Regions from separate parts of the Homo sapiens genome. Here region 1 is linked to region 2. The links come from fine-mapping of genetic effects on gene expression. A gene starts in region 2. The other region holds a variant in brackets. All regions are shown on one strand. Distances are from middle to middle.

The links.
Region 1: its variant is fine-mapped to the expression of KLRF2 in sun-exposed skin (GTEx, PIP 0.97).

Annotation. Positions count from the first base shown.
Region 1 is chr12:9,916,853-9,932,761 of GRCh38, forward strand. It overlaps CLEC2A (C-type lectin domain family 2 member A), which reads right to left and starts at 15,518. Exons shown (of 5, transcript NM_001130711.2): 1 at 15,423-15,518; 2 at 9,408-9,491; 3 at 5,214-5,380. The coding sequence starts at 15,477. The variant C/G (reference allele first, on the strand shown) is at 7,314.
Region 2 is chr12:9,873,169-9,889,077 of GRCh38, forward strand. KLRF2 (killer cell lectin like receptor F2) reads left to right here and starts at 8,321. Exons shown (of 6, transcript NM_001190765.1): 1 at 8,321-8,497; 2 at 11,766-11,864; 3 at 15,565-15,612. The coding sequence starts at 8,428. It also overlaps a transcript of CLEC2A not described here.

The sequences.
Region 1 (15,909 bases), 44 kb after region 2:
TTGCTGAACATGCTTCCCACCCCAATTATTCTATCTTTTAGGATTCACATTCTAATTTGTCTTCCCTGATGCTTCTATAACAACAAACAGCACAGATGTTGATGTTTGGGTTAGTTTTATCAGAAAGATTTTCATTTTGCTTTTTTGCATCTTAAGTATCTCCAGATAATTGGGCTACAACCAAGTCATTGATACCCTTTAGTATGAATGTCACTGATATTGTATGTTTTTTCATATAATCAGAGATAAAACTAACTTCTATATAAATATAATTTACTGCAATGAAATCTATTATGTGATGGCTTTAGTCACTGCTCTATTGGCTTTTTGCTATTAAGCCACAAACCTTTCATTAGCTTTTTGTTCTTTTAACTTTTATTTTAGGTTCTGTGATATATGTGAAGGTTTGTTACAGAGGTAGACTTGTGTCATGAAGGTTTGTTTTACAGATTATTTCATCACCCAAGTATTAAGCCCACTAACCAATAGTTATATCTGTCATATCTGCCATCACATAGTTCTGGGTTAATTATGGCAATATGCTAATTGAGATCAATAGGAGAGGACTGGAAAGTGTTTTATGTACATCATTTACATAGGCACTGAACAAACTTCTGTGTTAAACAGAACAATTAACTAATTAAAAGTGAGTCTTACCCAATCCAAATATACATGTCAGTACTAGATCAAAGATAAAAGTAGACAGACTCATTAGTTCACAAAAGTCATTTAAAAATTAACTCATCCATAACAAAAGAATCATAAGTCAATCACGTAAACACCACCGCAACCATTGTTGTTCTGGTTTTAGCTCTTTGAGGAATTGCCACACTGCTTTCCACAATGGTGGAACTATTTTCACTCCAACCAATAGTGTATAAGTGTTCTTTTCTCTACAACCTTGCTAGCATTTGTGGTTTTTTGACTTTTTAATAATATCCATTCTGACTGGTGTGAGATGATATCTCGTTGTGGTTTTAATGTGCACTTCTCTAATGATCAGTGATGTTGAGCTTTTTTTCATGTTTGTTGGTGAAATGTATGTCTTCTTTTAAAAAGGGTCTCTTTATGCCCTTTGCCCAATTTTAATAGGGTTGTTTTTCTCTTGTAAATTTGTTTTAAGTTCCTTAGAGATGCTGATGTTAGACTTTGACAGATGCATAGCTTGCAAAAGTTTTCTCCCATTCTGTAGTTTGTCTGTTTACTGTGTTAATAGTTTCTTTTGCTGTGCAGAAACTCTTAAGTTTAATTAGATAATATTTGTCAATTTTTGCATTTTTTTTTACTATTGCTTTTGTTGTCTTTGTCATGAAATTTGCCTGTTTCAATGTCCAGGATGGTATTGCCTAGGTTTTCTTCCAGTCTTTTTATAGTTTGGGGTTTTACATTTAGGTCTTTAATCCATCCTGAGTTGATTTTTGTATATGGTATAAGGAAGGAGTCTTGCTTCAATCCTTTGCATATGGCTAGCCAGTTATTCCAGCACAATTGATTAAATATGGAGTTCTTTTCCTATTGCTTGTTTTTGTCAGCTTTGTCAAAGATCAGATGGTCGTAGGTGTGTGTCCTTATTTCTGGGCTCTCTATTCTGTTCCACTGGTCTATGTGCCTGTTTTTGTACCAGTACCATGCTGTTTTGGTTACTGTAGCCCTGTAGTATAGTTTGCAGTCAGGTAACATGATGCTCCTAGCTTTATTCTTTTTGCTTAGGATTGCCTTGGCAATTTGGGCTCTTTTATGATTCCATATGAATTTTAAAATAGTTTTTTCTTTCTAATTTCATGAAGAATATCATTGGTAGTTTGACAGGAATAGCATTGAATTTCTGTCAGTTCAATGCCATTCCAGCCAGTTCAGCCTCGTTAAGAACTCTTGTTGGAGAACTGGTGCAGTTGTTTGGAAAACATATGACACTCTGACTATTTGAGTTACTGGAGTTCTTGCATTAATTCTGTCTCATCTCTGCAGTGGGTGTCAATTTAACTGCAGTGTATATTTAGTACAGTCGATAGATCTCTTTTCTGTTTGTTTTCATAGGGCTGAAGCTTTGTGCAGGGTCTTTATTTGAAGGTGACTTCTTTAATTTTAGAGGGGGTTATGTTAGTGAGATATTTTTGGTGTTGAAGATTTGAGGTGTGATCCAGTAGGTTGCGCTTGGACGTATTTGTCAGTTGGGAGACTCTTGATCCATTGTGTGACTCCCTTACTTTTCCTCACAGTTGCAGCCATGTTCTCTCTCAATGTTCTGAAAATGTGGGTTTCTCTCCCACTTGAGTGCTGGCTATAGATTGTGACTTGGCAATTCTAGGCTGCCCACTGCAGCTCTTGGGTGATCTCAGTGTTTATGTTTCTTCCCCAACTTGGAGGCAGCAATGGAAGAGACCTTAGTAGTGGTTAAAGCCAATGGTCTTTTGCTTTTCTCCTGGGAGCTTCACTCCAGAGAGATGCAAGTAAGCAATCATTCAGTGCAATCAGCCCAGGATGGAGGGTCTCTGCTGTGGGCCCAAGCTGGAGGTTCCATGTCTGGTGATGAGCAAGGTGGGTGAGCAGAGCCTGTGGAGATGGACTGGCCTCCTCTCCTGCAACTTGTTGGAGGTGTGGATGAGAGACTTAGGGTCTTTGCTCCTTCATTAGTCTGAGGGCAGCAAGGGCAGTTCCAGTGCAGAGGCAGTGGCAGAGAGGTTTCCTGTTGCCCCTGGAGGCTCTCTCTAAGACATTCCAGAGCTGCTACTGGCTCAATAGCGCTTGCGAGGGGGGCTGGAGGCCCAGGCCTGGAGGACCCTCCTGGTGAGGAGACAAGGAGATGGGCACTCATGTAACAGTCTGGCCACTTTATCATAGGGCTGCTGTGGTATGCTGGTGGCCATCTCCAGTCCCTATTTACCTCGGATTTTCTGATACCTGTAGGTACCAACAGTGAAGCCTACAAAACAGCAAAGAAGGTGGCCTGCCCCTCCCTCTGTGAGCTCTGTGCCAGGGAGGTACATAGCTATTACCGGCCCAAGAACACCTGTAGGAGGCAGCTAAAGACCCTGGTTAGAGATCCTGCCCAGTGAGGAGGAATGGGATTGGGTACCCACTTACAAGGGCAGTCTGGCCACTTTTTTGTAGAGCAGCTGTGCCGTGCTGGGGGACCACTTCCACCCCTGGTCAACTTGGACTCTCCAAAGCCTGAAGGCTGGATGGCTAAGTCACCCAAACAGCAAAGATGGCTGCCCACATCTCCCTCTGGGAGCTGTTTCAGGGAGGTGCAATGCTGTTATTGATGGCTGGCTAGAACTCCAAGCCAGTGGGTCCTATCCTGTGAGATGCCATGGAAGTGGGTCCTGCAGAATGTCGCTGCTCAGCCTCCTGGATTCAGCCCCTTTACTAGGGATGTGTAAGGGGGTCTAACCTCCCTCTTCGCTGGAGTTTCAACTACTTTTGCTGGGAAGCCTGGAACTCCTGGCTATCTGAGGCTCCCGGGTCACTGCACATGCCTGAGAGGCTGCTCTTTTGAAGCTCCACTTAGCTCTGTGTGTCAGACTGAAGGCCCCGGTGGAGTTGGTTTACAAGGGGATCTCCTGACCCGAGGGTTGCAAAGATCCATGGGAGCAGCATGGGTTCCAGGGGTTGCACATTCACTCACCACTTCCCTGGGCGAGGGGAGTTCCCCTGGCTCCATGTCGTTCCCAGGTTGGCCATCGACCTGCCTTGCTTTTCTTCATTGTCTATGGGTTGAGTTGTTTCCTTGATTAGTTCCATTGCGTGTACCCTGGATGTTTCAGTTCAAAGTGCTGTATTTACTCACCCCTTCAGTTCCTCTCTTTGAGAGCTGCGCACTCCAGCTACTTCTAGTCGGCCATCTTGGCCACTCTCCAACCCCCAGCTTTTCTTTAAAAACTAATCTATTTTCTTACTCTGTGTCCCTAGAGTCCACGTGTCTCCTTCTTTGCCCTCTTTACTTCCATTAATTCACTCGCGTCTTCGAAGTGCACATATTTCCTTCATTTCCTTGTCTCTAAATTCTAAGAGCTGTATTTTTAAAAATTTTTTCTGTCTATGCTTGGTAGAATGCAAATTGAAAAGGGTTTAAAAAATCTACTTAATAATCTAAGAACATTTAACGAAGACATTTAGATACATAAACAGTATGCATTGTGGTAAAGGACATGGCATCACTAGTCATCTTGCCTGGGTTCAAATCCCAGCCCAACAACTTATGGCTGTGTCATTGGCTGGGTTACATAACATTTCTGTGACTGACTTTCCTCATCTTTAAAGTAGGGAGAGTTATATAACTCCTTCATGGGTGTTAGTAGAAGATTACATGAGATTATATAGTTTCAGTGCTTAGAACACTGTTGAGCACACATTGTCATACACAGTTGACTCAAACAATGTGGCAGTTAGGGGCACTGACCGCCTGTGCAGTCAAAAGTCTGTATATAACTTTTGACTCCTCAAAAAGTTAACCATGCTGTTTATGGTATCTCATGCTAATTCTAGCACTTTGGGAGGCTGAGGCAGTAGAATTGCTTGATCTCAGTTTGAGACCAGCCTGGACAACATAGTGAGACCTCATCTCTACAAAAAATAAACAAAATTAGCCAGGAGTGGTGGTCTGCACCTGTAGTCCCAGCTACTCAGGAGGCTAAGGTGGGAGGATTGCTTGATCCCAGGAATTCAAGGCTACAGTGAGCTGAGATTGCACCACTGCACTCCAGCCTAGGTGCCAGAGTGAGACTCTGTCTTAAAAACAAACAAACAAACAAACAAAAAACAAAAACAGAAAACTTAGCCACTAGTAGCCTGCTGTTGACTGGAAGTCTTACTGGTAACATAAAAGTAAATTAACATATATTTTCATGTTATTTGAATTATATGCTGTATTATTACCATAAAGGAAGCTAGAGAAAAGAAGATGTTATTAAGAAAATCACAAGAAAGAGAAAATCTATTTACTATTCATTAAGTGGAAGTGAAGACATCGTAAAAGTCTTCATCCTCGTTGTTTTCATATTGAGTAGGCTGAGGAGGGGGAAGAAGAGGAGGGTTTGCTCTTGCTGTCTCAAGGGTGGCAGAGGAAAAATAATCCAGGTATAAGTGAACCCACACAGTTCAAACCCATGTTGTTCAAGGATCAATTGTATTATAGTATTAGCTATTATTGTTTTATTATGTTTTTATACAAACAATCTCTGAAATTACTGAAGACTTTTCTGTTTTCTTACCATGTCTTCTTGTGTATCAATCTGAGCAAGTTCTGCTTTCTGCAAACTACAAAATATTTTACTGGCTGTCCAATTTCTGGTATCATCAGAAAAATAGAAACACTTATCTCTCACTCCAAGCCAGTCCCCTGAACATGCCACAGGTTTAGCATGCTTGGACCATGTGGCTGAAAAAAAAAGAAAGAAATGATCAGATAAAGCATATGTTAAAAAGTGTTTCTACTCATTCAGGTGTATTAATTTTACTTTTTGCTTCCACAGTTTGAGGCCCGTAAGTTAGCTTCCCCCCTCCCCAGAATGAGGATGAATTAACTTCCCCTGTCTGTAAGGAAGATCATTTAGTGATCAAGCAGTGCATACTTTTTTCTATTTCCCTGGCTTCTATTTTGAGAAATGGAACCACTAGCTTCTCATAATCTATATTAATATCCTGCCAAAAACAATGCATAAAATGTAGCTATAAATTCTGCAATCAAGGTAGAGTGCTGGAGATCTGCATGTAATTTAGGTTTCGAGGTTAGGGTAAGAAATGGAGGCTTTCCTTTACCTATGAAAACACCCAAGCTAGGAAAGTGAAACTTGCCATAAAGGACAACACATAAGTGAAACATAAGAATTAGTGAAACCTTTGTTTCATTTCATTTACATCCAGTGCTGAAGAATATGGAATAATAATGAAAGCACATTGTTTGGAGATTTACTGTCTCAAGGTTTTATTTAGGTGCTAAGTATTCAGAATAAGACAAGTCCATGCATTCCACATGTTTGAATAAATTAATGCAAGTAATAAAGAGCCAACTATATGCTCAAATGTAGGGCAAACTCCAAAGGCTGCACCCCCTACTCCACCATGATTTATTATTATTATTATTATTTTGTAGTGCTCAGAAGTGGATACAGGCTACTACACAGGGTGTAAGATATAATGTGTTTCAACTCTGTCTCTGTGCTCTTTTTGTTGTGTTTTGTTTTGTTAAACTTTAAGTTCTGGGATAAATCTGCAGAGTGTGCAGGTTTGTGACGTTGGTATACATGTGCCATGGTGGCTTGCTGCACCTATCAACCCATCTTCTAGGTTTGAAGCCCCGCATGCATTAGGTATTTTGCAATCTATCCATTTGACAAAGGACTAATATCCAGAATCTACAAAGAACTTAAACAAATTTACAAGAAAAAAACAATCCCATCAAAAAGTGGGTGAAGGATATGAACAGACACTTCTCAAAGAAGACATTTACGCAGCCAACAGACACAGGAAAAAACGCTCATCATCACTGGCCATCAAAGAAATGCAAATCAAAACCACAATGAGATATCATCTCGCACCAGTTAGAATGGTGATCATTAAAAAGTCAGGAAACAACAGGTGCTGGAGAGGATGTGGAGAAATAGGAATACTTTTACACTGTTGGTGGGACTGTAAACTAGTTCAACCATTGTGGAAGACAGTGTGGCGATTCCTCAGGGATCTAGAACTAGAAATACCATTTGACCCAGCCATTCCATTACTGGGTATATACCCGAAGGATTATAAATCATGCTGCTATAAAGACACATACACACGTATGTTTATTGTGGCACTATTCACAATAGCAAAGACTTGGAACCAAACCAAGTGCCCATCAATGATAGACTGGATTAAGAAAATGTGGCACATATACACCATGGAATACTATGCAGCCTTAAAAAAGGATGAGTTCATGTCCTTTGTAGGGACATGGATGAAGCTGGAAACCATCATTCTCAGCAAACTATGGCAAGGACAGAAAACCAAACACCACATGTTCTCACTCATAGGTGGGAATTGAACAATGAGAACACATGGACACAGGGACGGGAATATCACACATTGGGGTGATGTTGGGGTTGGGGGAGTGGGGAGGGATAGCCCCCCTGTCGTGGGGTTGGGAGAGTGGGGAGGGATAGCATTAGGAGATATATCTAATGTAAATGACGAGTTAATGGGTGCAGCACACCAACATGGCACATGTATACATATGTAACACAAACCTGCACATTGTGCACATGTACCCTAGAACTTAAAGTATAATAATAAAAAAAAGAAAAAAAGAAAAAATAATAATCGCCATACTGACTGGC[C/G]TGAGATGGTATCTCATGTGGTTTTGATTTGCATTTCTCTACTGACCAGTGATGATGAGCTTTTCTTTATATGTTTACTGGCCACATAAATGTCTTCTTTTGTCTTTCTGCTCTTTTTAATCAATGAATAAATGAACATAAAAACTTACTGTAGAAACTCTTGTCTATATTTAACTTCCAGATGTTTAGACAGCAATAACATTAAGCTCTAAGACTACACTGACAGTAGAGACTATAAACAAGAAGACTATCAGTATTCTTGAGAATGACCGAAACCCAACCCAACCCAACCCAACCCAACCCAATCAAACCAAAACAAAACAAAGAGCAGTGCTACTTAGCCAAATATAAGTGCTAAATTAAGCAAACCATGCATATGGAAAATCAAGTGCTGGGGACTATTTGGCCATGGCTCAGGAATTAAATTCTACCTTTGGATCTTTTTCACAAAATAAACCCATAGAACCCAGAGGAAATTTAACAACTTCATTTTTACAAATATTGCAATTCCAATGAGACAGTCTTGCAAAAGGTCACATATGCCGTTATTTCTTTGTTTTTTTTCATTTAACTTAATATGATAGTGAAGGAGTTCAGAACATGATGCCCCGAAATATGTCACTCAGGCATATAGACTCTTTTGAGTTAAACGCACTTTTAAAACAGCAGATGCAAGAGAAAACACTCTGAGCTTCCTTATTTTTCTTATAAGCAGGAGATAAAATACCTTTGTGAAAGATATCTTCTCTATACCAGAAGGAAAGCAACATTCTTATAGTCAAGGATAGGTAGTTGAGGCCAAAGGAAATGTGTGCAAACAACATTTGTTAATTTAACATTTATCTTTCCGGTCACTTTTCTACCCAATTAATTACCCTAGATCAAACCTCTTTGCCTTGCCACATTTTCATAATTTATTACCCTTTGTTGAATTCAATATATAAGTGTTCAACTCTACCTGCATCTTTAGGCTTTCATAAGGAAGACGTGCATGTCACGTCAAACTTATATTAACTAAACGCATGTGCTTTGCTCAAGTTGATGTGTCTTGTGTCAATTTCATTCTCAGGCCCGCAGAAAAACCCTGAGCGGGTAGAGGTAAGATTTTGCATTCCAACTAATAGAAATAAATAAAGTTTTATAGAACAAACTATTAGTGACATAACTTACTCTTGATTAAAAAGAAATTAAAGGAATGCTACAATTATGAAGGTCAAGCTGCATGGTTTTTAAAATTTATCAAGCATTAGAGTTATACAGCCAAGGTGTTTGATCCTAGGTCTGGAATGTATTATTTGTGAGAGGCAACTTACTCATTCTGTCCTGTATATTTTTTATCTGTAAATGGATTTTCTTATACCTGTATCCTAGTCTAATGAGGATTAAATACAAATAGCAGAGCATAGTGTATTTAACATTAGCTCACTAATTCACAAACTCTAAAAAAGAAAATTATCTGTAACAAGCCCATAGAACTGATGTTTATGTGGGATTTTTTTTTATAAATATAGAAATTGATCCTCCTAGTTTTAAAACTTGAAACTTACATTTGTCTTATTTGAGTTCATTCTTTAGGAATCTGACCTTTAGTCCTCTCAGATAGTAACAGGAAACCGAAAGTCACCAGATCACCACTTCCAGACAAGGGACTCCTCACTGCCATGATTGTCTAACCGACCACCTGCTCCCTGTTGACCAACTCTTCTTCCCTACCCCTCCCTAATTCGGGAATAGTCATTGTCTCCGGGATTGGCTTTCTGTGCCCTGAGCAATGGGACCTAGACTGAACCCCTGGCATTTCAGTAACATCGCTATTGCTGTTGCCATCTGGTGGTCATCTAAGAATTTAAGATTATTTTTCTTAAGCATCAAGGACTATAAAGTCAAGAACATAATTCTATTGTAAAACTGAGAGTGTTTGGGGGAGAGGCAAGGATTATGGTAAAAACTGTTGAACTGGTAAAAATTTGAGGACAAGTGTCTATAAAACCCTTTAATCACTCTAGATGTGGGAGATTTGGAGTTAAACTTGAGATATACATGGACCCTTCAGGAGTGAAGAACCATAGAAAGTGTATGAATTAAACCACTCACCTATCATAATAATGCAAACTGTAGTAATAATAATACTCAGGAAGCACATAAGGCCAATCTTCCAGTTTTGTATCAACTTGGGAACTGCAAATTAAATCAACACATATTTTACAATTTCTGAATAAACACTGACTCGATATTATTACTGGTGTATTCCTCTCCTATAATTGTTAATCAGGAAACCCTCAATCAAGTACATACATCTCAAAATAACAAAGGATAGCAAACCATCAAAAAGTGCAAGGAAGATAAGTACCAAAAAATGATTGCTATAGCTGTTCGGCTCGAGAGAGTGGTGAGTGGAGAAATCACTGAGTTTTGGGGGAATGAGGAAGGAAAGGAAAGGAAAGTTTACTTAAAAGGTAGAAATAGTTTGAATGGGGGATTTTAAGCAAAAAGGCATAAAGATCATCAAAAGGTCCACGATTAGAGCAAATGTTTATAACAGATATATAAGGCAATAGGATTAAAGACAGGAAAGAAAGGAGTCATAAGGTCATGACAGAAGACCTTAAATGAGAGATATATTTTTCTTTATTCTTTAAGCCATGGAGGAAATAAACAATGTGTTTCAGCCAGAGAATATTCAAGATAAAAGCAGTAATTTATTTATTTGTGGTAAGCAAACAAAATTAGAGAAAACTCAGGATTTGACACTCGTGGAAATGCTATGAGGTTAAGAACAAATAATAATTCTATTAATGATAAAGTAATTGTAGCTGATATATCATTAGTAGATGTAGAAACAATCTAGGAAGAATGTGCGTGTATGTGTGTGTCTGTGTGTGTGTGTGTACAGTCATGCATAGCTTAGCAATGGGGAGATATTTTGAGAAATGTGCCTTTAGGTGATTGTGTCATTGTTGGAACATCATAGAATGTACTTACACAAACTTAGACAGTATAGCCTACTAACACCTAGGCTATATATTACAGACTGTTGCTCCTAGACTACAAAACTGGATAGCATGTTATCGTACTAATTACTGCAGGCAATTATAACACAATGCTAAATGCTTGCGTCTAAACATAGAAAAGGTACAGTGAAAATACCATATAAAAGATCAAAAATGGTACACCTTTACAAGGCAGCTTCATTGTAATCTTATGGGACCATTGTTGTTATGCAATCTGTCATTGACCAAAACATTGTTCTATGGTGCATGACTATATGTGTATATCGTGCATATATGCATAAACACAGATTATATATATGTATGCATGCCTATATGCATATATATGCTTTATATGTATGTATATATACATGTACATATACATACATATATTTAAATATCAGAAAAGAGGACTTGAAGAAAGAAAAATTTAAAAAGAAGTCATGTTTTCTCTCTTTCTTCAGAACTTAAAGCAGCCTTAGTGAATGAAAACTTGAAAAAGTTACTAGTTTTCATGATCACCAGACTACAGATAATGTGCAATAAAGTAATTTCAAGACTGGATTGAGAGAAGCCAGATTCTGAGATGTTTACAAAGAGAATGTTTGATAGGAAGAAGAGTTTGGTAATTTATCTTACATCTAGAGAAACAATAGCTAAAGATAGAAAACATAAAATGTGTTTTTTTTTTCAAGATTAGGGAGAAATGAAGAACAAGGAAGAAGAAAAGATAAAAACCACTGCACAAATTTCAGACACCCAAAATAGTAATTTGTGGGCAAAGCCATGTCTTACACAAAAGGTATTGAAACAATTGAGAAAAAAAGGCTTTACCATACGACAACATCAGCTTACAAAATTTATTTAAGACGTATTATTGACCTGAACATAAAACCTGAAACCATACAATTTCTAGAAAACATAAAATAGTTTGTGACCATGAGAATTAGTAAAGCTGTCTTAGAGAAAGAAGAGAAAGTACAGTGTAAAATTAAAAGAAAATGATAAATTGAATTTAATTGAAATTTAAGGGCTGGGCACAGTGGCTCATGCCTGTAATCCCAGCACTTTGGGAGGCCAAGGAGGGTGGATCACCTGAGGTCAGGAATTTGAGACCAGCCTGGCCAACATGGTGAGACCCCTTCTCTACTAAAAACACAAAAAATTAGCTGTGCATGATGGCAGGCACCTGTAATCCCAGCTACTCGGGAGGTTGAGGCAGGAGAATACTTGAACCCAGGAGGCGGAGGCTGCAGTGATCAGAATTATGCCACTGCACTCCAGCCTGGGTGACAGAGTGAGGCTCTGTCTTAAAAAAGAAAAAGAAAGAAAGAAAGAAGAAGGAAAGAAAGAAAGAAAGAAACCTCTGCCCATTTCAAGATACAAGACACTGTTGTGAATATAAATATGCAAGTTACAGACTGGGAGAAAATAGTCACAATATGTGTATGCAAAAAAGACTGGTATCGAAAATACTAAAAGGTCTGTAGTTTAGAGATATAGTACAAACAACTTGATAAAAAAAAGAACCAAAGTCTTGAACAAATACTTACAGAAGAATACACGCAAGTGAGCAATAAGCACATAAAAGATGTTCCATATTATTAGTCACAAGCAAAATGCAGAATAAAACCACAATGGAATATGACTACATGCCACTTGCACTGTTAAAATGAAAAAGACTGACAGCACCAAGTGTTAGCAGGATATAGGGGAACCGAAACACATACACAACTGGTTGAAGTACAAAAATGTATAAGTGTTTTGGAAAATTCTTTAGCAGTTTTTATTTTTAATTAAAATATATGTCCTTCATTCCTGTTCTGGCATGTGATATTTGCAATAGATTGGAAGTCATCCCTACTGTTCTCACAGTGACAACAAAAAAAAAGCTGAGAAAACTAAATAAAAACAACACTTCTAGTATACAGAAATAGTATTGATTTGTTAAATGTGCTCTTTTAAGTAACCCTCTTGAACTCTGGTATTATTTTTAATAGTTTTCTAGTTGATTCTATTGGTATTTATTTTTATATAATCAAATTATCTGAAAATATTGCAGATACAACTCTTCCATTGCAATCCTTGTCCTTTATAATTCCTTTTGTTTTCTTATATCACTGGTTACCTTTAGCATTGTACTACACTATTGCTAAACAGTAGTAGTTACAGTGAACATTTTTTTCTTGTTTTTAATCTTAAATGGAATGTTTAAATTTTCATTATTAAGCACTGTAAAAATGCTGTATAAATTTAACATACAACATTAGCAATTTAAAAAAGAATTTTTCTATTCCTAGTTTCTTAACAGGGACTTATCTCAGATAGACATTGAATGTTATCATGTTTCCTTGTTGTTATCAAATGCACTTACTGAATAATTGTGTGGACTTTCTTTCAAAAAATTTTAATATTTTTTGCACTGATATTCTGATATCTAAGCATTCCTAACATAAATCCACTTGTATATGAATTTTTAACTGCTTTGTTGTATATAGTAAATAAATATTTTCTTGGAATTTCTACTTCTAATTTCATAAGAAGATGAGTCTGTTTCTTTTTGTCTTGTTCTGACTTTGTTTGGAAATCAAAAAGTCTATTAAATCGGGGTAAATTTCTCATTTTGCTGTTTTTTGAAGCAAGATGTCCAATACAAAAATTAGCTATTTCTTGAAAGATCAGTAGATTACTCTATTTTAGTTGCCTTTTCAATGTATTTATTTTTAATTTCTATAATTCTATAATTATTTATTTCTTCTCATTACATTTTGGCATTTTATATTTTTTAGACCTCTACCTTCTTTTTTTAATATTTATAAGCGCATTAGTGTTTTAGTTTGCTAGGCCTGCCGTAACAAGTTGTCACAAACTGGGCGGCTAAAATTAACAGGAATGTATTGTCGTACAGTTCTGGAGACAAGAAGTCTGAAATTAAGATGTTGGTCGGATGGGTTCCTTGTGAGGCCTGTAAGGAAAGAATCTGTTCCAGGCCATTCTCCTTGGCTTGAAGATGGCATTCTCCCTGTATATGGATCCGTCTCTAAATTTTCCTTTTTTATGAGAACACCAGTAATATTAAATTAGGTCCCAACCTACCGACCTAATTTTAACGTGGTAAAGACACTATCTCCAAACCAGATCACATTCTGAGGTAGAGGGGGTTAGAGCCTCAATATATAAAATTTTAAGGGAACAGAGTTTGCCCCATAATAATTGATGAATTATTTCCATAATGTTTTATTAAATTTTAATATTTGTGGTTTTTGTGATTATTTGTACTTTTTTGATATTTTCTTTATTGTATCGTCTTCTGCAAACTTTTAGACATCTAGTTCTCTCGTCTTTTCTAATAGCCACCATTTGATTTGTTATCCCTCTCATTTCTTCTCTTTTTCACTAACGTCTCCTATTATCTCATTTTTTAATTTTGTATATTTTTCTTTCACTCTATTGTGCCAGATGCATGTTTTTTTCTTATCTATTTTGTTTGTACACTTTTGAAGTTTCAGTTTGAGGTATTTGGCTTTTATTAGTTTTAGAAGTTGGAATATTATTTCTTCAAATATTTCCTATCCGCTATTCTTTTTTTCTCTCTCTCTGTTTCAGATTCTTGTTATCTAGAAGGTGGCATTTCTACTTCTATTTTTCATATCTCTCAGCTTTTATTTTATATTTTCTAACTGTTTTCTTTTCTGTCATGTTTTTAATAGCATCTCCTAGGTCTTATTCATTCTTAATCAGCGTCCATTCTATTAATTAACTCCTCAAAGTGTTCTTTATTTCAAACACTATATTTCTATAATTATTATTTTCACTTGGTTTTTATTGTGTTCTTGGTGCTTCTTCATTTCATTAATATCTTTTCTTTTGGAGCATTTTTATTATGCTTTAATTAAATTCTCAGACTAGATGTTCTAATGATTCCTGCAGCCCGGCTTTCTCATAATCTTCCAGTACATGCTTCACAGTACTTCATATTTTGTCTTCTCGTTATGCAATGAGATAAATTTTCTTCCACTTTTTACTCTCTAAACTCTTAAATCTGTTACCCAGACAAGCCTGACTAATTTATTTGGCTAAAGGGATGGAATCTTATTTCTTTTTGTAATACTAATGTCCAATTGTGTAAAATGTAGACTAATTTTTAAAAATTTTCTTATGAAGTTTTCATAGATCAAGAGTTCGTAACTATGACCAATAGTTAGAATATACAACGAAGTAAATTTAACCTTACCCTAAAGAAACTTCTAAATAGAACATCCTTAAATTAAAATGGAAAGTCTTCTAAGACAGAGAGATATTATCACTGAAAACATTCTAGTATAGGCTGCTAGAAATGCTGTAGCTAGAAATCGTATGGTAGATGAAAAGTTTTACTAGGTAGCTACTGAGGTCTCTTCAACCTTTAAGAGTATCAGGCTTACTTATTATTAAAAGAATTATCCCAATTGCCCTGGGAATTCATATCAGTAAACTCTGATAGTGGTTTCAGCTGGAGTCCTTAACTCATTTCAAGATTTTACTTTTTATCTCTTCACTGTCTTTATCTTAAAGTTTTGGCAGGCTTCCTATTCCAGTCATTTGGCATACAATTCATTCGTTTTCTTTAACATAAACCCTCAGAACTATTGTGAATGGAGGGTGTTTGTATGTGTACCTTGTTTTTATTTATTGGTTTGTTTATGTTTCAATCCACTGAAAACAAACTTCATTGTTGGCCTTAGCTGAATCTTAAAATTTTTGAAAAGTTCTTTTCAGTCTTATGAAGTCACAATCATCAAGCCTCCTTCCAGAGTGAAGCATTTGCTTTTTATTCTGTATAAAAGTGTTAAGCAATTTTTTCCCTGTGAAAGTACATTTTAAAAATATTCTTATTGAGATATAATACACGTACCATAAAATTCTGCCCCAAAACCTTCTTACACACAAGCTTATACCCTCTCTTGCAGACATAAAACTCTACATGCTCTAACAGGCTTCCACAATTCTCCGGAAGTGCTTCCCCATCCCTCACTTACTTTAGTAGACTTTCACAGTAAGTAAAGAGTCCATATTTTTAAGCTGTCCTGTATTTTGTTTTATCTTTCCTTTACTTCCTTCTCATTCACTCTATAAAACTTACCTATCCGATGTATGAAGCCATCAGCTCTGCCATCCCGCAGCTCTGGATTAATCATGGCAAGGCGCTAACCGATGGAGATCAGTAGGAGAGGACTAGAAAGCTTTTCATGTACATCACTTATTTAGGCACTGAGCAAGCTTCAGTCAAAAGAGACTTAACCAATCCAAATGGAAAACATCAGTACTAATTTTAGATCAAAGATAAAAGTAGGCAGACTTGTTAGTTTAAGGAAGGAATTTAAAAATTAACTCATCCATAACAAAAGGATCGTAAAGTCAATCATGTAAACACCACAACAACCGTGCTATGGAACATTTCCATCATCTTTCTTTTTTTCCTTGTGTAATCACTATCTTTTCTGACCCTGGACCCTGGCAAGCATTACTTTGCTTTATATCAACATAGTTTTTCCTTTCATGGAATTTTTTTTTTTTGAGGCAGGGTCTCACTGTGTTGCCCAGGCTGGAGTGCAGTGGGGAAAACTTGG
Region 2 (15,909 bases):
GCACTCCAAACTCATTAAGTCACTATGGCCTGGATGTCTGCCTCAGCCTACTTCTTGACCAAAGCACATTTATGCACCTTACTGTTGGTGCAAAAGTTACTTTAGATAATTTTTAAAAATAATGATGTTTAACAATTGGCTCGAGAACCCTTGAAAATTTAACAGTCAGCTGTATACCACTGACTTTGCTGGACATGTACAACGGGAAAGAAATCAAGGGTGGATTACTAGTAGGCTAAGGGCAACCATGTACTCAAAACGTATAAACTATTACCCTAATCTAGTTTGGCCCAAGCCAGTTTTCTGACAGAGGACCCAATAATGGGAGAACTCATCCTTAAAAAGAAGCCCTCTTCAACACCAAGACTAGAGTAAATGGTAAGTATTTCTCCAGTCCATCCCCAGTGCGACTTATATTAGGCTTCTCAAGCTACCATAATGAAATAACATAGGCTGGGTGGCTTAAACAACAGAAATTTATTTTTCATCATTCTGGAGGCTCAAAGCCTAAGATCAAGGTGCTAGCCAGGTTAGTGTTCAATGAGGTCTCTCTTCCTGGAGCCGACTACTGCCTTCTCACTGTGTCCTCACATGACATTTTCTCTGTGTATGTGCAGAGAGGGTATCTTTCCCTCTTTTTATATGTATACCAGTCTTATGAGATTAAGGCCTTACCCTTATGACCTTATTTAACCTTAGGTTCCTCCTAAAGACACTCTCTTAAAATATAGTCACACTGGGGGTTATGTCTTCAGCATATGTGTTTGGATAGGAGCACAAATCAGTTCACAACAGGATTCATGGCCATTTATTTGAATAACTGGGAAAAAATCCAGGACATACATTTCTAGGATTACAGAATGCAGATGTAAGTTGACATTGATTCCCAAGAAAGGATCATGACCCTCCTGTTAGAGTAGAAGCTTATGGAGTCCCAGTAATAGAGTATTTGCTTATGTCTGGTTCACAGTAGGCCCAAGGACTCACCCAGTAGACATTCTTTGGTCTTTGAATACATAATGGGACACCACATACTTAAGAATTGGTACAAAGTTCACATTGGTTCCTTGGCCAGCTTGGTATGTACTGCGGTGAGAAAGACCAAGGCTCCTGAAACTGCTCCCCTCCTCTCCACTGGACATGATAGTCAACCCAAAATAATTCTGCATTATAGAGCGAATGACAAAGGTTATTGCCACCCATAAATACCTCAAAGACACAAGGATGCTGGTATCCATTTACCTCTATTTTATTCACCAGTGCAGCTCTGACAAAACTATATGGATTCTGGATGATGACAATTGATTATTGCAAGCTCAATCAAACAATAATTCCAAGTGTAGCTGCTGATTTAAATACAGAATACTTGTTAAAGCAAATTACCCTATGCTCAGGTACAGAAAATATGGCCATTAATTTGGCAAAAGAATTATTTTTTTATCTCTTTTAACAAATGAGTACCAAAAATATTTGGTAGTTATTTAGGGCTGACATGAGTAGACACTTACATTCTTGCCCCAGGTCTGTTAACTGTCCCACTGTCTATCATAATATAGTGAAGAGACCTGGACTGCTTGGACAGCCTACAAAATTTAACTCTTGTTCACTGTGCTAATGACAGTATACAAATTGAACTAGATGAGAAAGAAGGAGCAAGTACATTGGAGACATTGGTAAGATGCATACACTTCAGTGAGTTGTGAATACAGCAAAGATTGAATGGCCACTGCATCACATCAGTGAATTTTTTTTTTTTGGACAGAGTCTCATTCTGTCGCCCAGGCTGGAGTGCAATGGCGCAGTCTCGGCTCACTGCAAACTCCGCCTCTCGGGTTCATGCCATTCTCCTGCCTCAGCCTCCAGAGTAACTGGGACTACAGGCACCCGCCAATTTTTTTATATTTTTAGTAGAGACGGGGTTTCGCCATGTTAGCCAGGATGGTCTCAATCTCCTGACCTCGTGATCCACCCGCCTCGGCCTCCCAAAGTGCATCAGTGAAATTTTTATGTTTACATGGGTTTGGTGCACGCCAGGGCATCTCTTTAAAAAAATAGAGGACACAATGTCTGGTAGTCTTCATTGGATACTGAAGGGCCATTGTTCGTACTTGGAAATAGAGTTCTAACATACATATTGGTGTGTCTGGAATTGGTGGGTTCTTGGTCTCACTGACTTCAAGAATGAAGCGGCGGACCCTCGTGGTGAGTGTTAACAGTTCTTAAAGGCGGCGTGTCCGGAGTTTGTTCCTTCCGATGTTCGGATGTGTTCAGAATTTCTTCTTTCTGGTGGGTTCGTGGTCTCGCTGGCTCAGGAGTGAAGCTGCAGACCTTCGCGGTGAGTGTTACAGCTCTTAAGGCTGCGCGTCTGGAGTTGTTCCTTCCTCTCGGTGGGCTCCTGGTCTCGCTGGCTTCAGGAGTGAAGCTACAGATCTTCGCTGTGAGTGTTACAGCTCATAAAGGCAGTGTGGACCCAAAGAGTGAGCAGTAGCAAGATTTACTGCAAAGAGCAAAGAACAAAGCTTCCACAGTGTGGAAGGGGACCCCAGCCAGTTGCCACTCCCGGCCAGGGCAGCCTGCTTTTATTCTCTATCTGGCCCCACCCACATCCTGCTGATTGGTAGAGCCCAGTGGTCTGTTTTGACAGGGCGCTGATTGGTGCGTTTACAATCCCTGAGCTAGACACAAAGGTTCTCCACATCCCCACCAGATTAGCTAGATACACAGTGTCCACACAAAGGTTCTCCAAGGCCCCACCAGAGTAGCCAGATACAGAGTGTCGATTGGTGCATTCACAAACCCTGAGCTAGACACAGGGTGCTGATTGGTGTGTTCACAAACCTTGAGCTAGATACAGAGTGCCGATTGGTGTATTTACAATCCCTAAGCTAGACATAAAGGTTCTCCTTGTCCCCACCAGACTCAGGAGCCCAGCTGGCTTCACCCAGTGGATCCCGCACCTGGGCTGCAGGTGGAGCTGCCTGCCAGTCCCGCGCCCTGCGCCTGCACTCCTCAGCCCTTGGGTGGTCGATGGGACTGGGTGCCGTGGAGCAGGGGGTGGGCCGGCACTGCTGGGGGACCCAGGGACCCAGCACACCCTCTGCAGCCGCTAGCCCGGGTGCTAAGCCCCTCATTGCCAGGGGCCGGCAGGGCCGGCCGGCTGCTCCGAGTGCGGGGCCTGCCAAGCCCACACCCACAGGGAACTCGCGCTGGCCCGCAAGCACTGCGCGCAGCCCCGGTTCCCACCCGCGCCGCTCCCTCCACACCTCCCCGCAAGCTGAGGGAGCCGGCTCCGGCCTTGGCCAGCCCAGAAAGGGGCTCTCACAGTGCAGTGGTGGGCTGAAGGGCTCCTCAAGTGCCGCCAAAGTGGGAGCCCAGGCAGAGGAGGTGCCCAGAGCGAACGAGGGCTGTGAGGACTGCCAGCACGCTGTCACCTCTCATTAGGGGACACAAAAGGCTGCAAGGCTCCCATCGTGGCCCAGAGAGTAAACATGGACTCCTCCGCAAATCTGGCTGCAGCAGAAGCATCTCTACCACTGGAGCCATGTAACTTACCGCACTGTGTAATACCAGAGGTATCAACGGTGAGAAAAAATTTTGTGGAATTTATGGCCAAGTCCTAACGGGTGAAACATAATTTCTACTGATCCTTTGAGTCCTAGAGCAATACCAGGTCAATTATAGCTAAGCATTTATAGAGCTTTTGTGAAATAGCTCCTGGCATGCTACTGGACCTTGCAGAAATAGATTACTTGGATGTGAGTCAGCAGGCATCCGTATGTTCTGAACTGCCATTAATAAAATGAAACCCACCCAGGCGCAGTGGCTCATGCCTGTAATTCCAGCACTTTGGGAGGCCAAGGCGCGTGGATCACTTGAGGTCAGGAGTTCAAGGCCAGCCTGGCCAACATGGTGAAACCCCGTCTCTACTAAAAATACAAAAAATAGCCTGGCGTGGTAGTGGGTGCATGTAATCCCAGCTACTCAGGAAGCTAAGGCAGGAGAATCACTTGAACCTGGGAGGCAGAGGTTGAGTGAGCCAGGATTCCACCATGGCACTCCAGCCTGGGTGACAGAGCGAGACTCCCTCTCAAGAAAAAAAGGAAAGAGAAACCTGTAAGACTCACCAAATATAAGTTCAGGCACTCCCAGCAGCAATTCATTATATGATGAGATTGGTATATCCAGAATCAGCACAGGCAGATTCTCAGTGAAAAGGCAAGCTGAAGACCCCTATGCCAACCAGAGAGCACAGGCAAGCTTCAGAAATGATACTAATGATACTATCCAACTGTTTCACTGGCACCTCTCCCTCGGCTCATGTCTATGGCTGTTTAAGATATTTCCTATTACCTGCTGATAAACAAGGAATAAAGTTTAGTTGGTTCTCAGAAAGGTCTGTTTTGGATGTAGATGAAAGCTCTAATTGGACGATGGTTACACGACAGCACCACTAACTGAGCTTCATAAGACAATAAAAATAACTCACATTTAAAACATATATGAACTCCTGGGCAATGGGTAACATGTGTCTCTGTCTCTGCCACTGGAGTGAAAGCTCCACGAAGTCATGAAATCAGAGGGGTTTATCTGTTTTACTTGTTGATGTATTCTCAGTGGTTAGAACTGTGGCTGTAGCATAACATATATTCAAAAAGTCTTATTGAATGAATCAATATACGAATGAATATATACAGAGGAATAGTCATAAATACATTAGTAACAGAAAATGAACAAGGCACAAATAGTTAACCCATAACAATGCATATACAGTCAGTGTATCCAAAGTTGTCTAAACACAATGAAAATCCAAGAAATCTAAAGTGAAACAATGCAGCAGCCTATCAGATTAAAAATGTGTCTATAATCACTTGAGCTCAGGAGTTTGAGGGTACAGTGAGTTATGATGACACCTCTACATCCAGCCTGGGTAACAGAACAAGACCCTGTCTGAAAAAAAAAATGCCCATTTAAGATTAAAATGATAATCTGGTATGGGTGTGGGAAATTCTAAATTTCAGAAGCGTAGAAGTTGTAACGTTTCTGGAGAGAATGGAGACTTCCTTTTATTAACTAATTCATACATGAGGATATGAATTTTGTAAAAGATGCACATTTTCTATGTCTATTTTGGATTTGTGGGGCATCAGATTTATTGAGTATCTCAACCCTTAAAGATACTCTTTTGTTTTATATGGGCCAAGGGGAGAGGGCAAAAGGAGACTAAATGCCATGAAGGAATAATGTCAGCCCACACGGAGTTTGAGCCAAGATGATGGCTTTTAAAATGGGAAGTAATGAATTTACTAGGGAAATACGCAGGGGGTTAAACTGACAGAACTTAATTACTAACTATATAGAGAACACTGAATAAATCTATAGTTTGGGAAAAACATTAAGATACAAATTTTAGACATCTTCAAGTTTTGATACTCTAAAATATTTCAGCATTCAATCCCACCAAATCTGTTAGACCCATACTGAGAGAATTGGCCCAGGCATAGAAGGTAAAGGGAAGAGAAGTTTCTGAAGGTACTTGATGGCCCTTGGGTAGAACTGAGGGGTCTGGCGCCCAGGATGGAGGGTGGGGGAACAGTTTTAAAGTTGCTACCTTTTATACAGTGAGGAGGCTAGGCAGTCATTGACCACCTTCTCTCTCCTTTCTACAGCCTCCTCCAGGCTTTGATTTCCTCTCTTCAAGGTCAGTTTTGTGAACCGATTTTTTAGGAGGATGGGGGGATGGAGAATGCTTTTGTGAGGGAACCTGGTGACGACCTGCTGTGGCAACTGTTCACTGTTGACTATAGATGTATTGGGAGATGCTACAGCGGAATCAGGCTTTCTGATATCAACGGCAATAATTTGATTCTAGAGGTCAAGGGGTTGCAGTTGCCACAATAAGCCAGAGGGAATGATTAGTAATCAGAGTTTTCATCCACAGAAATCTGTGACAATGATTAGCTGATTTTAAGTTTTGGGAAATGAAAAAAAAAGAAAAGAAAAGAAAAACAAACAAAAAAGGATATTTCACTAAGGAGCTGCTTGATATGCTAAGGAAAATTACATGTATGTTGCCCAGAAACTTAGCCCGTATTTTCAGAGAGGAGATTCATTGTGTCTTACCCAATCCCCAGACTTCCATATAGTTAGTAGGCAAAGCTCTTCGCAGACCAGGAACCACTCAACTGGGGAGGAGGTAGGTTTGGTCTCTTGGTGAAGGACATTGTAACATGGCCACAGGTGTAATTATGATATTTATTCCCCAACACCTAAACCGGAGGAAACTTCAGTCATTTTCTTGAATGACTATACACTGGGAAAAAGCTGAGAACCTGTGATGGTTTCCGGCTTGTATTTACAAACAGAAATAACAAGTATTTCTTTGCTGCCTTGCCCAGGTGTATGTCAGCTCTCCTGATCTCTGTTATAAGATGGCCCAGAGGGAACTAAATCATCTTGATATAGCTCCCAATATGTTATACCTCAGAACTGGTTGCACACAATAGATTCATTACATTGATGCTATCATGCCAACTGTTCCTGGTGAAAAGTAGGCAGTAAACCTACTACATATTTTTATAAGACATATGTTCACCACCATTAACTTGATCCAACTTGACCACTTTGACCCAATGAACCCTATGTTTAGAAGTGCACAGAAGCATTTTATCACAAACATAATTGTGCCATTTTGGAGGCAAGGCCTGAACAGTTCCAAAGAAGCACAGTAAACTGCATGAGCAGATGGCTCAGACTCCGATGGCACATGTTCGCATTCCTTTGCTATCTCCACCTCAACCATACCTATGACCCGGGTTGGGGATGGAAAAGAGGGTTCTGTACGATCTTACACTGAAGTAGTTGAAAAAAATAAGTTTATCAGTGGTTATGTAAAATACGGCAGCTGGAATAGATGCCACACTACAGTCCCATTCAGGAGAAGACTGTGAAAGACAGAAGTGAAGGTAAGTCTTCCCACTGAACAGAAGTTTGGACAATATGTCTGGTTGTGAACCTAACAGGAAGGATAAGCACTCAGAGAAATACATCTAAATCATCTTATCAGAAACTAATAGGTGAGATGACTTGTCGGAAACTCAAAAAGAACAAAATAGAAAAATGAATGAGAAGCTAAGAGGTACATATAGAGATCATGCAGAATGGACGCGGCGTGTGTAAATATTCATTCCCATGTAAATACTCACAAGTGACATCCAGTGTTGAGGAGGAGACTCAATAATCAGGTGAACACAACATGTGCTGTGGGAAACAGTCAGCCACCTTCCCCAGACACTCGGTGTTAAATCAATGGATTGATATTGAGTGGCCACGTAGCAGAAACAGAACCATTAGCATGTGTGTGTGTGTGTGTGTGTGTGTGCGTGTTAAGTGAAATATATATAAAATAAGGAATGTGATTATGGAGGCTGGTAAGTCAAAATTCTGCAAATGAGCATGGACAGACTGGGTACCTAGGAAGGCTCAATTCAAATGCAAAGTCCACCGTCTGTAGAATCAGGAGGAGCTAATGCTGCAGATAGTCTGAAGGCCATTGCTGGAGAATTCTCTCTCACTCAGGGAAGACAAGTCTTTTTGTTCTATTCAAGGCTCCAACTGACTCAATAAGGCCCAGTCACATTACAGAGGAGGCAAATCTGCCTTACTCAAAGGTCACCTATTTAAATATGAATCCCATCCAAAAACACCCTCACAGAAATAAGCAGAATGATGTCTGATCAACTATCTGGACTCTCTGTGACTCAGCCAAGTTGACACAAAATAAACTGCCACACCTACTGAAGGAAAATCTGCCTGGCGTTTTCTGAAAAACAAACAAACAAACAAAAAAGTTTAAAAAGTTAAATTCTTTGCAAGTGATTCCGATTTTCACTAACTTGAGACTTGCTGATCTTTTATTTTCCTATTTTTGTCCCATCTAACCATCGTTATTTGGACTCTACTAGTCAAATATGTCCCAAATAACAAAATTGCTATTTTAACTTTTTTAATTTGAATTTTTATTTACCTAGACATTTGTTCTGTTTGTTTAGAGATTATTTGTTTTATTTTATTTTTTCTCTTACTTTATTATAAAAGACATGAAGGAAGGAATTATGTTTCTAATACACCGCACACAAGTGGCAGGAACACACAAGTCCATTTGTTGAAAACAGTGGAACACACTAGCTACCTTTACCTTGAAATTCACAGAATTGTAGCCAGATATTAACAAGCTTATATCCATTTTCATTTACCAACACATCCTGTGTGGTTTTAGACATCTGTGTCTGAGTAAATTTTGACTATTTTTGGCCTTCCTTTTAGTTTTCTTTTAGTACCTTGTGCCAAAGAGACATATCCAAGGTTGAGATTAGTTTCCATTTTCTTTGTACTATTTTCTGGATAATAAGACATTAGACATTTGAAGAGATGGAGAATGAAGATGGGTATATGACGCTGAGTTTCAAGAATCGTTGTAAATCGAAGCAGAAATCTAAAGGTAGGAATACTGCTCCCCATCACCGCATTTAAAATTTCATTATTCTTCTAGGAAGAGAATTATCTTAGAATATTTTTAACATCTTAACATTGATCATAATAAGGAATATAAAAATGGTCATAAATTGTCTGTTAGATTATTTAGATTCATGAAAGCATCAACAATAAAAAGTCTGCATTTTCAGAGCCATGAGGTAAGAGAAATGCGAATATGACGATGTGTAATCCTGTGTGTTGTAGCATAAGAACATCACTTTCGAAGAAAAGGCTGAAAAATTGTGTTTTTACAGAAACTTCCTCCTACAAAACTTAAAGTTTATATAAACTTAAAGCGTATATATATGCTTATATATATATTTATGCTTATACATATATAATATTTTTAATCTTCGTAAAAGCCCTATAGGATTGGTAGAACAATCTACTGGGAATGCGAGAAGAGAGAAAAAAAAACAAAAAAACATTAATCTTTGCTCCTTAGGGCTGCTCTGTGGTTGGCTTTGTTTGCTTTTTCAGGAATTTTGAAAACAATCTTGTTGAAATAGCCAAGACCTAAGTTAAGATGACATAGGCCAGAAATTCAGAATTACCAGTCGCAGTGGCAGTTCTGCCATATGTATTGAACATTCTCGTGTACAATCTCATTTTATATCTAGCAAATGCAAACTTCCCCTGCACCCCCTGCCCCCACAAAATGACACTTTTGTTATTATCTGAAGACTCAGATCTTTTTTGTGTTTCAATATCATGAAACAAATGTTTACTTTTTCAATAGTAACTTACTTCCATGCAGCAAAAACTAGTACCATTGGTGTTAAATTGACTGAGGCAGACCAGGCACGGTGGCTCATGCCTGTAATCCCAGCACTTTGGGATGCAGAGGTGGGCGGGTCACCTGAGGTCAGGAATTCGAGACCAGCCTGGCCAACATGGTGAAACCCCGTCTCTACTAAAAATACAAAAAAAATTAGCTGGGTATGGTGGCGTGTGCCTGTAATCCCAACTACTTGGGAGGCTGAGGCAGGAGAATCGCTTGAACCCGGGAGACGGAGGTTGCAGTCAGCTGAGATCATGCCACTGCACTCCAGCCTGAGTGACAGAGCAAGACTCCATATATAAAAAAACAAAAAAAATTATTCAGACCCTAAAGCCCACAGACTAAATGTATGGCTCTGGGCAGAAGCTTTTAGCCTTCTTAAATCTCAATACTTTGATATATAATAAGAAAAATCTACCTGATGATGCTTTTATGTGGATGTTAAACTAAATTTACTATTTTTTAATCTATAAACTACTTTTTAATATACAAATGTGTACAGAGACTTAAAATCTGAGTATTGATACATAAAATATAAGATAATATCCATTTAAATTATGAATGAAGGAAGGATAGGGCTGGGAAAATAAATTGGGCCAGAAAAATTACTGTAGGCATGTTTGTGCTTGCTATACATTTGCTTCCAAGCTTCCTTGTTATTACTGACCTAAGGGAATTCTTACCAGTTGTTCAGTTCACATTGTGTATAAGATAAAGTTACACCTATTCCTTAAGATTGATATAATTAATCTTGATCCTAAATCAGAAAAAATATTTTCCTGAGTTCTCATGAAGCACATAAAATAATACAATTAGTGTTCTTGCAATAGTAGCACCAGCAGATTTTGTAAGACAATTTCTTCATATAGCCCTGTGTAAGCCAATGGCATCTAGCCAAGCAGTGCTAGGATAGGCCAGCATACTGCACTTCATGTACTCAGCTCTCTGTTCACCTGGCTTGATATAGTATGTAAATCATGGCTTACATGAAAATATTAATTTTTGGTCTATTGTTCAGTTTTTTATAAATCTTATTTGGCAAGAAGTTTAAAGTCTCCCTCCCTGGCATGTATGGAAAGAGCACTTGTTAACTACAGATCCATATACCCTTGATTGATATTTTCTCATAAAATTGCAGAAATGTATTTTGACGATTTTCAATTAAGTAGAAGTCTTTCCATATTTGCTTGAACAGCAGAAATATCTACAGGGAAGAAAAAGAAAGAAAATTATTTTGGACTTAGTAATACAGACAATTGAGTAGCAAATTTCAAAAGGTACACTACATACAGTAAATTCTCTAAGTATATACTATAGATCTAATCAAATGCAGTAAATCCATAAAACCTATTGAAGTAAAGCATCCACACAGAAATTAGATTTGAGAAACAGCACTTTTATTATGACTTAGAAGACAAATTATTTGTGAAATGTACAACCAAGGTGATGAAATTAAATGTTTGTTTATAGATAAAAGAATAAAAAATAGGGAATAATTATCAGAGTATCTCAAATTACTTTGCTTTCTCTTTGGCCACTAGCCTGGCAAACTGACTAAAATGATTGTAGATTGAGATATTAATTATATGATGTCTGCATATAAAAGGAACCTGTCATAGTTTTGTGAAAAAAGTGTATACATCCAATTTATTCAAAAGTGCTAATATGTGGAAAAAAGTAGATAAAATTGAAAGAGGATTATTATACATGCCCCTGTTTAACCTCTCTAGAGATTACTTGTTTATTCCTTTATAAGGAAGCTATTCTTGCCAACTCTAATGCGATGAAATACTATAGCATAGATGTCATATAAGCATCATTAATTGGAGATCTAATACTACCTAAGCTGAAACTGACTCCTGTCTAAAGAGTCAAACCCAGAAAAATATAATATATTACAGGTGTAAGGTGAAATAAAATGTGGATATTTCCAGTACAGTGACTGGTATATAATAGAATTTTAATAAATATTTCTTTCCCTCTTTTATTTCTTAGCAGTGAGTCACTAAATTGAATAACACACGTAATTGTGCCTGACATAGATATATACATTTTATATATTATTCTTTCTATATAATTTACATGTATAGAATAATATATATGTTTACATTGTATATATTTATATTTTATATAATATGTTATAACAAATATTTATATCATATATAATATGTATTTGTATGTATAATTTATATGGAATTTAAGACATCATTTTTAGGTCCTCAAAAACACCACCAAATAATTAACAAGTCTATGTCAGTACAATCCAAAACGTTTAATAATAGTAGTATCTCCTTGGTTTGGGATTCTAGACTTTTTATTTTTAGATTTTCATTTAATCATAAATTCTAATGACATATCTAAAATGAACATGAGTTGTCTCTGTAATAAAAATGAAACAGAAAAATATTTATAAAGTGAATAATCACAAGAATTCTAAAATTCAACATTTCAGATTTCTCCCTATATCCACAATATTATTGTCTTCTGCTCATATTTGGATGCATTGTGATCCTTATATTCATTATGACAGGGATTGACCTGAAGTTCTGGCGTGAGTAGTAAATTTTTATTTATTTGAACATTTTCAGAAGATAAATGTTGATCCTTCATTCCTCTTAATGCCAAGATAAACTCTACACTGTAGTCCAAAACTGGCATATGTCATATTATAAAATTATATTAAATTTAAAAAATTAAATGCTCAAATGCAAGCTTGGTATTTATTCTGCATCTTTTCTTATAAAGAACCCCCAATAGAGGTTGACTTTATTATCTTATAATTAAAAAAGTAATGTATCTTTACTAAAAGAGTATGTGCTCATTGGTATCACTTTGTGAGATCATTATTTAAGTATATATATATATATATTAAGACCCATCTGAAAACCATTTTAGGTAGACTTCCAGACTTTTTTCTTCCTGAAGTGGTACTTATATGTGTATACTGTAGCTATTCTATTTGAACAACCAAAGAAATTCATTATCTTTGATTTTTCTGTCTTGCTTTTAAGGCTGTGAGCTCAAATGAGTAGTGTTTTACATATAACATGACAGGAAATAGATTTTGGGGGCTTTTGAGATGAGATTTCTAAAAATAGGTGAGTCCTAAAGCAACTTCTGTAGCGTAGAAGATCCTTTACTTCTTAATAAAGGATCCATATTTGTATTGGGCAATTGGGCAATTTTGTGTTTTTCCCAATACAACAAGGGAAAATATCAGACTTTTCTCAGACCAAAGATATATCCTACTTAATGTATTTTTTCTCTAAATATCAATCATATACCTCAAAATTGTTCAATGCAACATTGAAATCAATTACTAATTACCTGAAAATGTCCACTTATTTAACATTCAATGTTAAACGACTATTTTTAGTCGTTATGAATCTATCTAAGTAGGTATTGCTTTCTGTTAACCAGTAATTCTAAGAAGTTGAATCCACTGTAGTAATTACTATGGCTTTAAAAATGTTCCTAAAATTCAGGAGATAATTTCTTGTTAGACACTGAGTATGACCTTTACAGGCCACTCTGCTCTCTTGTAAATCAGTTTTCTCTTCAAATAAAATATAAATGGTAAAATGACATAAATAATGCAATAATTATTCTTTTAAAGAAAAACGCTATTGAGAAGAAATCAATGAAATTTGACATGTTGATGAATTACTAGTAGTAAAAATATTTTTTTCTAGCCATATTTTTTATTCTAATAAATTAGTAACAATTACAATATGTGTGTTTCTATAAAATTTGTCCTTGGGTTTTGACCAGTTTAAAATATTCTTCATGGCTTCCAGTCAAAATGGAGTATTGACCATAAATATTTATATCTCCTCTCTCCCAATAATCTATCCATAGAAGAAGAAAAGATAACAAAATAGAGTAAATTAATCAAAGCACATAGAATGGAAAGGGGAGAAAATTTTAAAGAAAATGAAAAGTGGATAGCATAATGCTATTGGATAAATCAATGGGGAGAACCTTAGTTCAAATAAAGCATAAAAGACAGCTGCAGTGTAGATGAAAGCTGTTCATCATGGTTAAGCTAAGGCAGGGCTCCATTTCAGAGAGGAGAGTCAGAGGGTAAATGGAGGTCTAAAACAAGGTAATTCTTTAATACATACAATGCTTATTACCAATTAAATTTAAAAATAACTTTTGAAAGCCAAAAATATGAAGCAAACTAATTAAGTGAAAGACTTTCTAAGCCATGCTCTTTTTGATTGGTGTCTTGTCAATCTGTCGGTCTATTTACACAGTGGATTTTGCCCCTATATCATGCAAAAAAAAAAAAAAAAAAAGAGAGAAGAACTCTCTAAAACAGTGAGATATATAGATAGAGCCAGGTAGAGCTCCTGATTTATGGACTGGTGGTCGGTGCAATAAGGTGTATACCCACTTGTTTTGGTTTTGGAGTGAGAGAGGGGAGTAGTGTGTAGGTCTACTACATAGCTTGGCTATTTCTTGTGCCATTTCTTCTGAAAAGTCATGGTAGCTAACCAAATATCCCGGAGCACAGAGCAAAATGTCAGAAAAAAAACATAAATAAATATAAGAGGATATCTGAGATGGAAAATCAAAAAATGCCTATTTATCCAGAAAGGTCAATAGCTCTTTTAACAAGCTTCCAGAAGAAGAAAATAGGTGAAAAAAAGTAGATATAAAATAATGAAAAAAGTAATATAAACCATTTCTCAAGAGTAAAAGCAAAACCAAAAAACATGAGTTTTCAGCTTACAAGAACCCACTAAGTTCGGAACAGAATACAAAAACAGATAATACATAGAAAGAGATGATAGATTAGATAGATAAAGATAGATAGATAGATAGATAATTTCAGAACACCATGAGTAAAAATATAATCCTAAAGGGTTTACATAAATAATTAGTTTTCCCCCAAAGCAAATTAGCATCAGATTTTTAAACGCACCTAAAAAGATTCTACTGGAGCAATGCCTTCAAAGTTATGAGCAATCTTGATTTTAACTTAGATTTGAAACAAGAGTAATCAAGTAAATATTTTTTCCATTCATTGTTTTGGAATAACAACAGCAAAAAAGAATGTGGGAGGTGGGTGGCTAACTTTGGATAGAATGAAGCTAGCCCAAGAATATAATTAAAAGACTTTTCAAATTAACAACTGTTCTGTTTTCCTAGCTAGCAATTAATTCTGTCTATATGAAAACAAACTATAAATAATGCAACTAGGAAGCTGAAGGAACTTGATGATATGGTCAAAAGAGTTTTTTTTTTTTTTTTTGGTCTGCAACAAGGGAAAATAAGATCAAGACTAGGCGTTGGAGCTCATGCCTGTAATCCCAGCACTTTGGGAGGCCAAGGCAGGTGGAGCGCTTGAGCCCAGGAGTTCCAGACCAGTTTGGGCAACATGGTGAAACCCCGTCCCTAATAAAAAAATACACAAAAATTAGCTGGGTGTGGAAGTGTGCGCCTGTACTCCCAACTACTTGGGAAGCTGAGGCAAGAGGATGGCTTGAGCTCAGGAGCCAGATGTTGCAGTGAGCCATGATGGCCCACTGCACTTCAGCTTAGGTGACAAAGCCAGACCCTGTGTCAAAAAAAAAAAAAAAAAAAAGTTAAGAATAGTAATAAAAATGAAAAAAAAAAAGAAAACAGAATGTCAATTAAAAAGTCCAGTGAAAAAAATAATATACAAAAATGTAACATCATACATGAAGTCTAAGATCTCACATAATATTTAGAATTGCAGGCCGGGCATGGTGGCTCACACCTGTAATCTCAGCACTTTCGGAAGCCGAGGCGGGCGGATCACGAGGTCAGGAGATCGAGACCATCCTGGCTAATATCATGAAACCCCATCTCTACTAAAAATACAAAAAATTAGCTGGGCATGGTGGTGCGCGCCTGTAGTCCCATATGCTCGGGAGGCTGAGGTAGGAGAATGGCGAGAACCTGGGAGTCGGAGCTTGCAGTGAGCCGAGATTGCGCCACTGCACTGCAGCCTGGGCAACAGAGTGAGACTCTGTCTCAAAAAAAAAATAAAAATAATAAAAATTAAAAAATAGAATTGTGATTTGCACTTAAAGGAGTAAAAACAGATATGGCGAAACGTAGTTAAATCTGGGGAAGAAGAGGAGTGGATGCATAGGAGAAGAGAAACTCACAATTTTTATTAGTATGCCTTCATTTTCTGCTGGTACTTTATTCTCATGTACCTAGATTGCTATTGATTTTTAAATGTTTCTCATATCTTTTCTTTGCACTGAGTACAGATAAAAAAATGGATTTCTCCCAGAATGTAAACGTCAGCAGTCTATCAGGTAATACTCTTTTTGTTTGTTATGTGCTACTCTTAGGGGTAAATTTAGTTTTGGCTTCCCTCTTCCTGGCGTTCACCCATGTTACACAGTAAGCCAACAGCACTGGTGGAGAAAGGTATGGGGCTGAAAAGGACATCCTCTTCCTCAGTGCCATTGCTGTGTATCAAATGGTTGAAAGGCAGGACAATTGTGGTGATTTCTAGGAGGAAAAAAAATAGGGTTTTAGTGAGTCAACAACAGGATGATAGTGGATTTCCTGCCATACCTAACTTGCCAAATATTTATCGAGCATCCACT